Regions from separate parts of the Homo sapiens genome. Here region 1 is linked to region 2. Evidence: fine-mapped expression QTL. A gene starts in region 2. The other region holds a variant in brackets. All regions are shown on one strand. Distances are from middle to middle. Region 1 holds the start of SIRPG-AS1 (SIRPG antisense RNA 1). Region 2 holds the start of SIRPG (signal regulatory protein gamma).

Region 1 (5,386 bases), 22 kb before region 2:
GGAGGCAAAGGAATGACATAGAAAAGAGCAAAAGCCTCAAGTCAATTAAATCACCACTTCAAGAAACTAGAAAAAGTAGAGCAAAATAAACTCAAAGCAAGCAGGAGACAGGAATTAATAAAAAGAAGAGTGCAAAAAATGAATAAACTGGAAACACAAAAACAATTTAAAAACTCACGGAAACAAAGTGGTCCTTTGAAAAGACCAATAAAATGGAAAAAAACTATAGCAAGGCTGATGAAGAAGAAAACAGAAATGGCATATTTTAGATATGAGGTTGAAACAGGGGATATCGCCATAACCCTTCAGACACCAAAAAGATAATAAGGAGATATTATGAACAACTCTACACACAAAAATATGACAACTTAGATAAAATGGACACAAAATTCTTCAAAAGGCACGAGTTACCGGAACTCACCCAATATGAAATGAATAATATGAGTAACCCTAAACTACTGAGGAAATTGAATTTATACTTTTAAAACACCCCCAAAAATTCTTGAGGCCCAAGTGTTTCAAAGAAAAATACTGCAAAGCATTTAAATATGAATTAAAACCAAATTTAGTGCACAGAAAGATAGTCATAAAAGAAATTTGAGGAAAATTTGAATGTATACTCCATTTTAGATGATATAAGGGAATTGTTTTAATAATTTTATGAAATTTAGTGATTAAAAATTTGAAATTGTATTAACTGTAATAATGATACTGGTTTTGTTATGCTGTCTTTAGTCATAAGATCACCCAACTATGGATTCCATTTGGAACTGCGTGTACATGCATGACTGAGTTAGCTGTGGACATGATCACACGCCTTCCATACATCTCTGATTATAGAAGATATTTTTTGCCCTCCATTTCCTATATTTACTCTTCCAGCAGACAGGGACATGGAAAAATCCGTGACCTAGCACTGACCCAGCAGATAAGACTAACCACCATAAGGTATGTGGGAGGAACCTGGGCCTTTGAAAAGTCTCCTGGAGTTGAGACTCCTCCTGGTATTACACAAGAGGGAAGTAAGACATATTTTGGTCATACGGAGTGGAACACAGGCCAACTTCAGGTCCATGGGACAATGCCCAGCAGAAGAGGACTGTTTCTCTAACTAGCACAAATTTGCATTTTAGGCTGATACTGACCTTGTCCTCAGGGACCCAGATTTACTTTAATTAGTTTGAACCAATAACCCGATCTAAAGGCAAGAGGTCTTCAACAACATCCCCCATGACTTCCCAAGTCCTAGTTTCCCCTTCTTTAAAACTCCAGACTTACTGGGTGGTTGAAGCAAAAACAGAGATCATGGATGAATGGAAATTTGCACTTAGTAAATTTGCAGAGGGGTTTGTGATTATTGTTGCTCAAATATCACAATCAGGACACAGAAGAGGTCCGTTCTGTGACCATTCATGGTCACCTGCAGGCCTGGTACAGTTTTTTTTTTTTTTTTTGACAGAGTCTCGCTCTGTCGCCCAGGCTGGAGTGCAGTGGCATGATCTCGGCTCACTGCAAGCTCCGCCTCCTGGGTTCACACCATTCTCCTGCCTCAGCCTCCCGAGTAGCTGGGACTACAGGCGCCCGCCACCACGCCCGGCTCATTTTTTTGTATTTTTAGTAGAGATGGGGTTTCACCGTGTTAACCAGGATGGTCTCGATCTCCTGACCTCGTGATCCGCCCGCCTCGGCCTCCCAAAGTGCTGGGATTACAGGCGTGAGCCGCCAGGCCTGGTACAGTTTTAAACTACATTTGTCTTTCTGAAACATACACAGCAGATGTCAGGGTGTACTGGGATGAGGTCATAAATGAGGATGGAAAAGTTTGGATGAAACAGAAACAAAGCAGAGGTTAGAAAAAGTAGGGAGCACAAGGGTGGGCTGATGAGAAACGGGCACAACAACTCTCAAGGAATAAGGGAAGGCAAAGGACTCTATGAGAAGATGGTTCCCCCTGCCTGCCTCTTTGCTCCTTAAATATATATTTATGTACGCCAGGCGCGGTGGCTCACGCCTGTAATCCCAGCACTTTGGGAGGCTGAGGCGGGCGGATCACGAGGTCAGGAGATCGAGACCATCCTGGCTAACACGGTGAAACCCCATCTCTACTAAAAATACAAAAAATTAGTCGGGCGTGGTGGCGGGCGCCTGTAGTCCCAGCTACTCGGGAGGCTGAGACAGGAGAATGGCGTGAACCCGGGAGGCGGAGCTTGCGGTGAGCAGAGATCGCGCCACTGCACTCCAGTCTGGGCGACAGAGCCAGACTCCGTCTCAAAAAAAAAAAAAATTAAACATATATTTATGTCAAAAGTTCTATTAACTTGTGCATCAAATTCTTACTAGTCATGACTCTTCGCATGTGGGATTTGGGGGGATGGAGCTGACATTAAAATTTTACTTTGTATTTATAGACTTCTAGCTTATTTTACAGCAAGTGTGGATATTACTTTTAAAATGAGAGAAAAAGACAAAATTTAAAAATTTTGAGTAACCTCACCAGGGGTAGCATCTGAGCTCTGGTCCTTCTGGTGGACTGTGACCTCTAGGGCAAGGCGTTTGCTGACCGCCAGCTGCCCATCATGCTTCACCTGGCAGGTGAGGACCACATCATCCCTTTGGTCAGATATGTTCACCAGGAACCAGCTTGTCCAGTTGTAGGTACCATCCTTGTTCTCTGTAAGGGTCGAGGCTGTTTCTCTCTGGCACACGTTTCCATTCTCCGACCAGGTCAGCTGTAGGCTCTGGGGGTAGAACTTCCTCACCTGGCAGGTGACGTTTACCTGGTTCCCCACCCTCATGGGCTGTTGAGTAACCTCCAAGGTGGGTGGAACTGAAACAGCACAGGGTAGAAGCTCTGATCTTCTGGCACAGACAGATCACAGGGAGGGCTCCATAACTTAACTCCCACTACCACGGTGAGGGCATCACCAGGACAGTGCTAGGCAGGCAGCAGATGCTAAGACATTGAGGGCGCTCTTTGCATATGAATGAAATTACCAAGCACAGTGCCTGGTGCACAGTAGGTGCTCAAGGACTGGTAGCTCCTACTAGGCTAAGAATGAGTGAAATCTACAAGCACAACCCCTGGCATGCAGTTGGAATGTAAGAACTGTA[G/A]CAAAATCAGTGAAATCGCCGAGCACATAGGGACTTGGCTCATAGTAGGTACTCACTAATAGTAGTTGTTCTTGGTGAGATAAATGAAACTCTCTAGCGCAGAGCTTGGCACGTGATTGCTGGTCCCCTGACCGCTGCCAATAAAATGATAGTAAGTGACCAGCACACCTAGGTGCATGGCGGGCGGGCAGTATAGTCAGGGATTAGATTACAGGCCATTCAACCTCTGGAGCAACAGCCTGGGGAGAGGGGAGTGGGCTTGACAGCCAGGTGTGGGCTTGGGCTGGGTGTGAGGGTCCTCTACCTCGGATGGCCTCAGACAAGTTGGCAGTCCCACGAAGAGGGTCCCCCTGCAAGGTGACATGGGCCACCTCGCAGATGACCTGAGAGCGAACGTCCCAGGGGTCCAGTACCACCCTGGCTGTGCTGCGGATGCTGTAGGCCACACTCTGTCCTGTGGGGTCCACGTTGGTCTGGAAGTCTGAGAGCTCATTCCCATTTTTGAACCATTTCAGGGTGATGTCTCTGGGAGAGAAGCCATGGGACTCACAGGTGAAACTCACTGTATGCTCAGGTGTGGTCCTCGCCGCAGGGCCCAATACCACGGGGGCAGAGGGTTTGGCTACAAAAGGGGCATCGATAAACAGGAGACATGACTGAGATGACAATCACTAACGATGAGTGTGTGACACTGTTAAGAACCTTCAGATACATTAATTTTAATCCTTCTAATAATGTGGAGAGGATGGTGTTCTTATTCTCATTTTACAGAGCAGGATGCAAAGGTTGGAAGAGGTGACGACCAGCCCCAGGTCAGACAGTGTAGGGAAAGGTCCCAGAGGGAAGTCCAGGTCTGAGTTCAAAGTCCTCCTCTCCACATAGGGTGACTTCCACCAATCTGGGCACAGGAACAAAGTTACTGATTGTTCTCCCTCTGTGTATTAACTGGTGCTAGCCTGTTTCCCCAGGAGAGCTCACCAACCTCAGAGAGGGTGTTTACAGAAGCCAAAGTAGGGAACAATGGCAAAGTGGCGCCACCATGAGACCTGCAACCAGGCTGCTCAGCCCATGAGAGGGGTGGCCTGGAACATGCAGCCCCTCATCTGCAAAGTGGGACAGCAGCATTTTCCCTTCCCAGGGGTGCAACAAGGATTAAATGGGGCCATGGAAGAAGTTTTGCTTTGGATCAAAGTCAGAAGATGCTTCATAAAAATAAACACAGATCTGTCTTTAATCCAGACTTGACATATACCTAGAGCTCTCTCTCTTTGTGTATTTATGAATTTATTCCATATTTTTCATTCTTTTCACAAATATTCCAGTACAGTTTTTGAAAGAAAATGAAGTAGTTAAGGCTAAAGCTTTAACATGGAGTCAAGCGTTTGTAAGAGCATTGCACTCACACCTGCTAAAGGTCAAGCCACAGGATGTTGCTGTAGACCTGGATAACAATGGACTGAAGTCAAGGTACATGGGATTTTGATTTCTCTCATCCTGGAGTGTCCTAATTAAGTAACCAATTCATACGAGTTTGCAGTTTAGCATTTCTGCCAGGCAATGAACTGTTTTCAAAAACAACATTTTGTGAAAGTCCCCAGTACAAAACTTTTCCTGCATTGCCCTATGGGACACTGTTCAGGACTACCATGACTCAGGGTTCCCAAATTGCAACTCTTTATTTCCCAGATAAATGCTATTTCCTTTGGCCTTCCTATCAATCATTATTTTTTTTAGTTAGCAGGTCTAATCTGTGCCAAGTCCCAAATTTGAAAAGAGGGAAGGTTTCTTGGAATCTAGGTCTTCAGTTGGGCCAGGTTGGGTCCAAAAACAATGATCACTGAGTACTAAGAAAGCCAAAGGTGGGTGATTTCTTCATCGTTAATTCATTACAAGAGACAAAGATCTAGGCCACCCCAACAGGCAGAAATCTATCCTGGGTCCTGAAAGCACACAAACTGGAGAATCAGAAAAATGAGGGTAGTTTCTCCCTGTAGATGAGTCCTAAACGTGTCTCCAAATTGCTAATTATTACCCTGCACCTCCTATAGCAGTCATCAGGAAACACATATTAGGCATACTTGCATTTGTAAATATTAACTTGCTCCCTACCACATGCAAACATTTTATGGGCACAGTAAGAAGGGTGTCACTTGAAGAAGTCAAGTCATCAAGACACCAGCAGCATTGGGCATCCCTAGAGGGCTGAGAGGCTGTAACCAGTTGCCATTTATTGAGGGCTTCTTGGGAGCCTGATGCTGGCTGCTCCCTCTGTACC
Region 2 (5,386 bases):
GAAATTAGGCCTTCTTCTCATGCCTCATACAAAAATCAACTCAAAATGGATTAAAGATTTAAATGTAAGATCTGAAACTGTACAAGAACTAGAAGAAAAGTTTCATGACATTGGTCTTGGCAATACATTTTTGGATTTGAGCCCCAAAGCACAGGCAACAAAAGCAAAAATAGACAAAAGGCATTAACAACAAACTAAAAAAGCTTCTACCCAGCCAAGGAAACAATCAACAGAGTGAAGAGACAACCTATAGAATGGAAGAAAACATTTGCAAACCATACATCTGATAAGGAGTCAGTATACAAAATATATAAGGAAGTCAAACAACTCAACCATAAGAAAACAACCCTATTAAAATATGGGCCAAAGATCCGAATAGACATTTCTCAGAAGAAGACATTAAGATGGCAAGTCAGCGTATAAAAAAAAATCCAACCTTACTATTCATGAGATAAATGCAAATTAAAACCGCAGTGGGCTATCATCTCACACCTTTAAGAATGGCTATTATCAAAAAGAGGAAATTTAGTATTGGAGAAGATGTGGAGAAAAGGGAACCCTTGCAGACAGTTGGTGGGAATATAAATTAGTAGAGCCATTAGTGAAAACAGTATGCAGGTTCCTCAAGAAATTAAAAATATAACTCTTATCTGATCTGGTAATCTCACTACTGGCATATATCCAAAGGAAATGACATCAGCATGTCACACATATATCTGCACTCCCATGTCCATTGCAGCATTATTTACAAAAGCCAAGATATGGAATCAACCTAGGTGTCTATCAGCAGATAAATGGAGAAAGAAAATGTAGCATATATGCACAATGAAATTCTAATCAGCCTTACAAAAAGGGAAACCCTGTCATTTGCAACAACATGGATGAACCTGGAGGACATTCTGCTAAGTGAAATAAGCCAGGCACGGAAAGACAAACACTGTATGATTTCACGTATGAAGAATCTAAAAAGTTGAGCTCATAGAAGTAGAAAGTAGAATGGTGTTTATCGGGGGCTAGAGAGGGGGTGTAGTTGGGGAGATATTAGTCAAAGGATACAAAATTTCAATTTAAATAAGAGAAATAAGTTCAAGATATCTATTGTACAATGTGGTGTTTATACTTAATAATATGAATTGTATTCTTGAAAACTGCTGAGAGAGCAGAGTTTACGAGTTCTCACAATAAAAAATGATAAATATGTAAGGTAATGCATATGTTTATTAGTTCAAATTAGTCATTCCACAATGTATGCATATTTCTTAATATGTTGTACATAAGTATACATACTTTTGTCAAATAAAAATAAAATAAAATATTTATTTTGTTAAAAATTTCACTGAAAATAGAAAGAGAACCAATGATTAAAAATGAAATCTCATCTGTGCATGTACATGTACATGCATAGGCACATGTGCATATATATGTGTATATAATGTGTATATATACACATTCACAAATATATATAAAAGTTTGGCTTATCATGTTAGTATATAAGGTTGTTTTGTGCATTAATTACAATTATGACAAATTTAAAAATCTCAGTAAAATATTTGGCACATAGAAACCATCCAACACATTTTTAACATTTTGGGAAAACATACATACACTAGTGTTTTACCTCTGATTGTTTCTGACTGGTGTGATGGGTGATTATTAATCTAATGTTTGCTTGCCTGCATTTTCTAATATTTCTACACATAGCATAACATGGTTAAAAGGGTGATAAACTCTGGAACTGGTCAACCTGGACTTGATCCCAACTGCTCCATGGACTGAAGTAGGGGACAATGAACAGGTTCCTGCCTCTGCCTCACTCCCCATTTGCAAATAGAGCACAAGAGTTATAGCTTCCACACAGGGATGCTGTGAGGATTAGTTGACTTAATACACACAAAATGCTAAGAAGTGCATCTGCCTTACAGGAAGAGAGCAATTGCTGAACTATTACTGCTGTCATTTGGGTACAGTGTATGTGTAAAAAAAATAATTTGAAAAGTGAGACCTTGCCCTCTAAGACCTGTGAGATGACATCACAGCAGGGCCCAGTGGGCAACTGAGAGGCTATTGTGCCCAGCCCTGTGACCGGGGGTCAGCTGCATGGTCTGAAAAAGGGGTGAAGACAGGCAGCCTGTCTGGGAGCTGTGAACAGGGCTCTCTCAGGTGGCACCAGGAAAGACCTCCCAATCCTGTCTGCCTGGGGGAAGGGAAAATAAATTCTCCAGAGGAAAGTCAAGATGACCAAGGGAGATGGTGGTGCCTGTTATGGGCTGAATGTGCCCCCAAAACGAATGGGTTGAAGCCCCAATCCCCAGCGCCTTAGAATTTGACCATATTTGGAGACAAGGTCTTTAACCCATTTATGCCCGAGGTTGCAATTTTTTTTTAATTTGAAAAATCAGACCTTGGCGATGCCCTTGAGCAGTAGGATATAAATAACTCCCGCAAGCTTAGTGATCCAATAACGGAGCACTAGGCATAAATGGGTGAAGCAATTTAGTTAAATGAGGTCACTGGCGGGGAGCCTTAATCCAATATGGCTGATGTTCTCATAAGAGAAAATGAGAATACAGACACACACAGAGGAAGACCATGTGTCAAGACACATGGAGGAGATGGCCTTCTACAAGCCAAGGAGAAAGACCTCAGTAGAAACTAACCCTGCTGGCATCTTGATTTTGCAATTCAGCCTCCAGAACTGAAAGAAAGAAAGTAAATGTCTATTGTTTTAGTTACTGAGTCTGTGGTGCTTTGTTGTGGAAGCCCTAAGAAAGGAATATAGGACGCTGTAAGCATGAAATGTGGAACTTCTTAAAGAGGAGGAGGGCACACAAAAATGGGTAGGAGGACTCAAGACAGGTAAGGATTTAATAATGATTCTTCTGTGTTTGTCAAATAAAATATTATAAAAATGTAACTAATTGTGATGGTGGCAGAAGCCTCACAAGGTTTGATGCCTCTGGTAGCCAGCTGCAGATCCACAGAGAAAGTGCTCAGCTCCCTGATCTTCTGCTCTTGGACAATGTCCAGTCCTTGACCTTCCTTGGCAGTGCTTGTGCTTATCTGAAATTGCTGCAAGTCCAGGGGCAAGGCTAGGTCCAGGAAGCAGGGAGAAAGGGTTCTAGCCCAATGCAATGCTCACCTGTAAGTCCCAGCAGTAGAGTCAGAAGCAGGAAAGGACCAGGAGGATGGGGCCAGGAGGCTGGGACAGGCATTTTGGAGACCTCAGAAGCCTGCTCTGTTCAAACGTCTGTTCTGGGGAGATGTCAGGCCCTGCTCTGAAGACAGAAGACAAGCCCTGCCTCCCTCAATTCAAGAGGAAGTGGCTATGATGGAATGCAACAGTAACCTGCTTCTAGATTGTGACTTACAAATCAGGCACAGTAGGCAGCTACAAAGCAAGGAGTTAATCGTGCTCCATTTTCAGGATAATCAGACAGGGTTAGCAGAAATAATGCTTCCTGCCTGCCTGGGACCTGTGCTCCCTCCTCGTGTCCCCAAACCCATTTTCAGGTCTTCTTGGTGATTTGCCATTTGAGGCTTTTAAGTCAAGAAAGATCTGTTGTTAGGTATTGTTTTCTAAAGTCTTTATTTCAAGACCCTAGGATGTGGTTGGCTTGTGGTCTTGTTCTGCACCAGCCTCAACCAAATGCCACTCCGCTGGACGTAGGAGAAGAGTTCACAGGACCTGCTCAACACTGGAGAGGAACCAGATCTTCTCCTGAAATGATTTTCTATTCCAAATTGCTATAATTGGCAACACTTAGCCCAAATTCAGTCTCTTGTGGACCTTAGCACTTTCATGTGCCTGCACCCAGCAGAAGGAATTATTTCTTGACTCCTTCCAGGAGAGAAACTGGGTTTGAGGTAATAAGCAACTGCTTTGTGGAGTGAGGTGGGGATTGTGGGTTATGGAAAGGGGATAGGGTTATCATGAGGGAAGATTATGGTGGGCAGGTTCCTGGGGCCGTCGCATCAATTTCAATACCCTTTCTTCTACACACAGAGCACCTATTTCATTCATCACTGAGTTCGGATGGGAAATGAGGAAAGAGGAAAAATCCATGCTCCTGCCAAGAGTGTGTGCCAAGGAGTTGGGGAAGTCGCTGGGCCCTCCTATGCTCAGTTTCAATCTCCTAAACTGGGAATAGTAAGTCTTTTTGTGCAGTGTTTTAGTGACGATTAAAGAGGTAATGAGCATATCATGCCTGAAACCCAGTAGGTCATTATTGATACTCACGGTGCCAGGTGAAGTGCGGGAACTCAAATGTTGCTTTTGAATGGATCCCTCCTGCATGCTGAGTTGCCCACCAGTGGCTTTCTCCCAGCAACCCAGGCCTCCTGAGACCCAGCTTATATAGTGTATTTGGACTCTCGCTGCCACCCTGAAATCAGTTTCTCCCTCTGGATTCTCTAAATCCCGCTCCTTGTTCAACCATAGATTAATTCCTCCTCTTACAATTTCCAGCTGTGTGATTTTCAAAAAGACACTACTTCTCTGAGCCTTGGTTTGATTGTATGTAAATAAATGTTAGAATATGCACCTTGTAGAGCTATGGTAGGAATAATATAAGCCATACTGAATGCTTGACTCATAATTAATTATAAGCAAAAAAACATGGCTATAATTATTTTCTGTGTACAGGAAGAGTCCACTGGTTCTCTGCCACCGTTGTGCCTTAGAAAAGCCACCTTGTTAAAAGAAATGATTTCTCTTCCAGCATCTATGACTAAGAAAGACCTGTCCAGAATCCTTCATCTCACATGTGGGTTTTAGGTTCTTAATCTGTCATGAATAATTGTCAAATCAAATTGTAAATGTTATCATGTTTTAATTGAAAGTCCTGTTTTAATGTGGCAGATGTACACAGGGTGAAATCTTCCCCTCCTTCTCCACACCCACAGTAGTGAAAACACAAAATGAAAAGAATATATGAATCAATGTCTAATTACACTTGAATACAAGCAATTGGCTTCTATATGACATGAAGGAATTATAACAGCTATCATTTATTGAGAGTTTCCTGTGCTCCAGATATGGTGCCAAGCATTTTTCTATTGGTAATGTCATTAAATCATTGCTCTGACCCCATGAGGTAAGCTCAACCATTAACCTCCTTTCACAGGTGAGAAAACCCGAGGCACATGGAGAGTAATGAATTTGCTCAAGATCACCCGGCTTTTAGAACTGGAACATAGGCTGCCACACTCCACAGCCTTCACTTTTAATGGTTGTACTATGATACCTCTTGCAGGAAGGGAGAGACATCCCTCAGGAAGAAAGCAGAGAAGAAGCTATAGCCTCAATTAGGAGCAGCCCTCATAGTGAGGCTGGGGCAGGTGCCATGCTCCACGAGGCCCTGACAACCCATGATCACATGGGGAATTA

What was found.
Region 1: its variant is fine-mapped to the expression of SIRPG in whole blood (TOPMed, PIP above 0.99).

Annotation. Positions count from the first base shown.
Region 1 is chr20:1,632,773-1,638,158 of GRCh38, forward strand. It overlaps SIRPG (signal regulatory protein gamma), which reads right to left. Exons shown (of 6, transcript NM_018556.4): 3 at 3,416-3,733; 4 at 2,495-2,827. It overlaps SIRPG-AS1 (SIRPG antisense RNA 1), which reads left to right and starts at 736. Exons shown (of 3, transcript NR_110090.1): 1 at 736-948; 2 at 4,434-4,578. RefSeq lists an enhancer at 2,318-3,143. The variant G/A (reference allele first, on the strand shown) is at 3,112.
Region 2 is chr20:1,654,503-1,659,888 of GRCh38, forward strand. SIRPG (signal regulatory protein gamma) reads right to left here and starts at 3,277. Exons shown (of 6, transcript NM_018556.4): 1 at 3,140-3,277. The coding sequence starts at 3,212.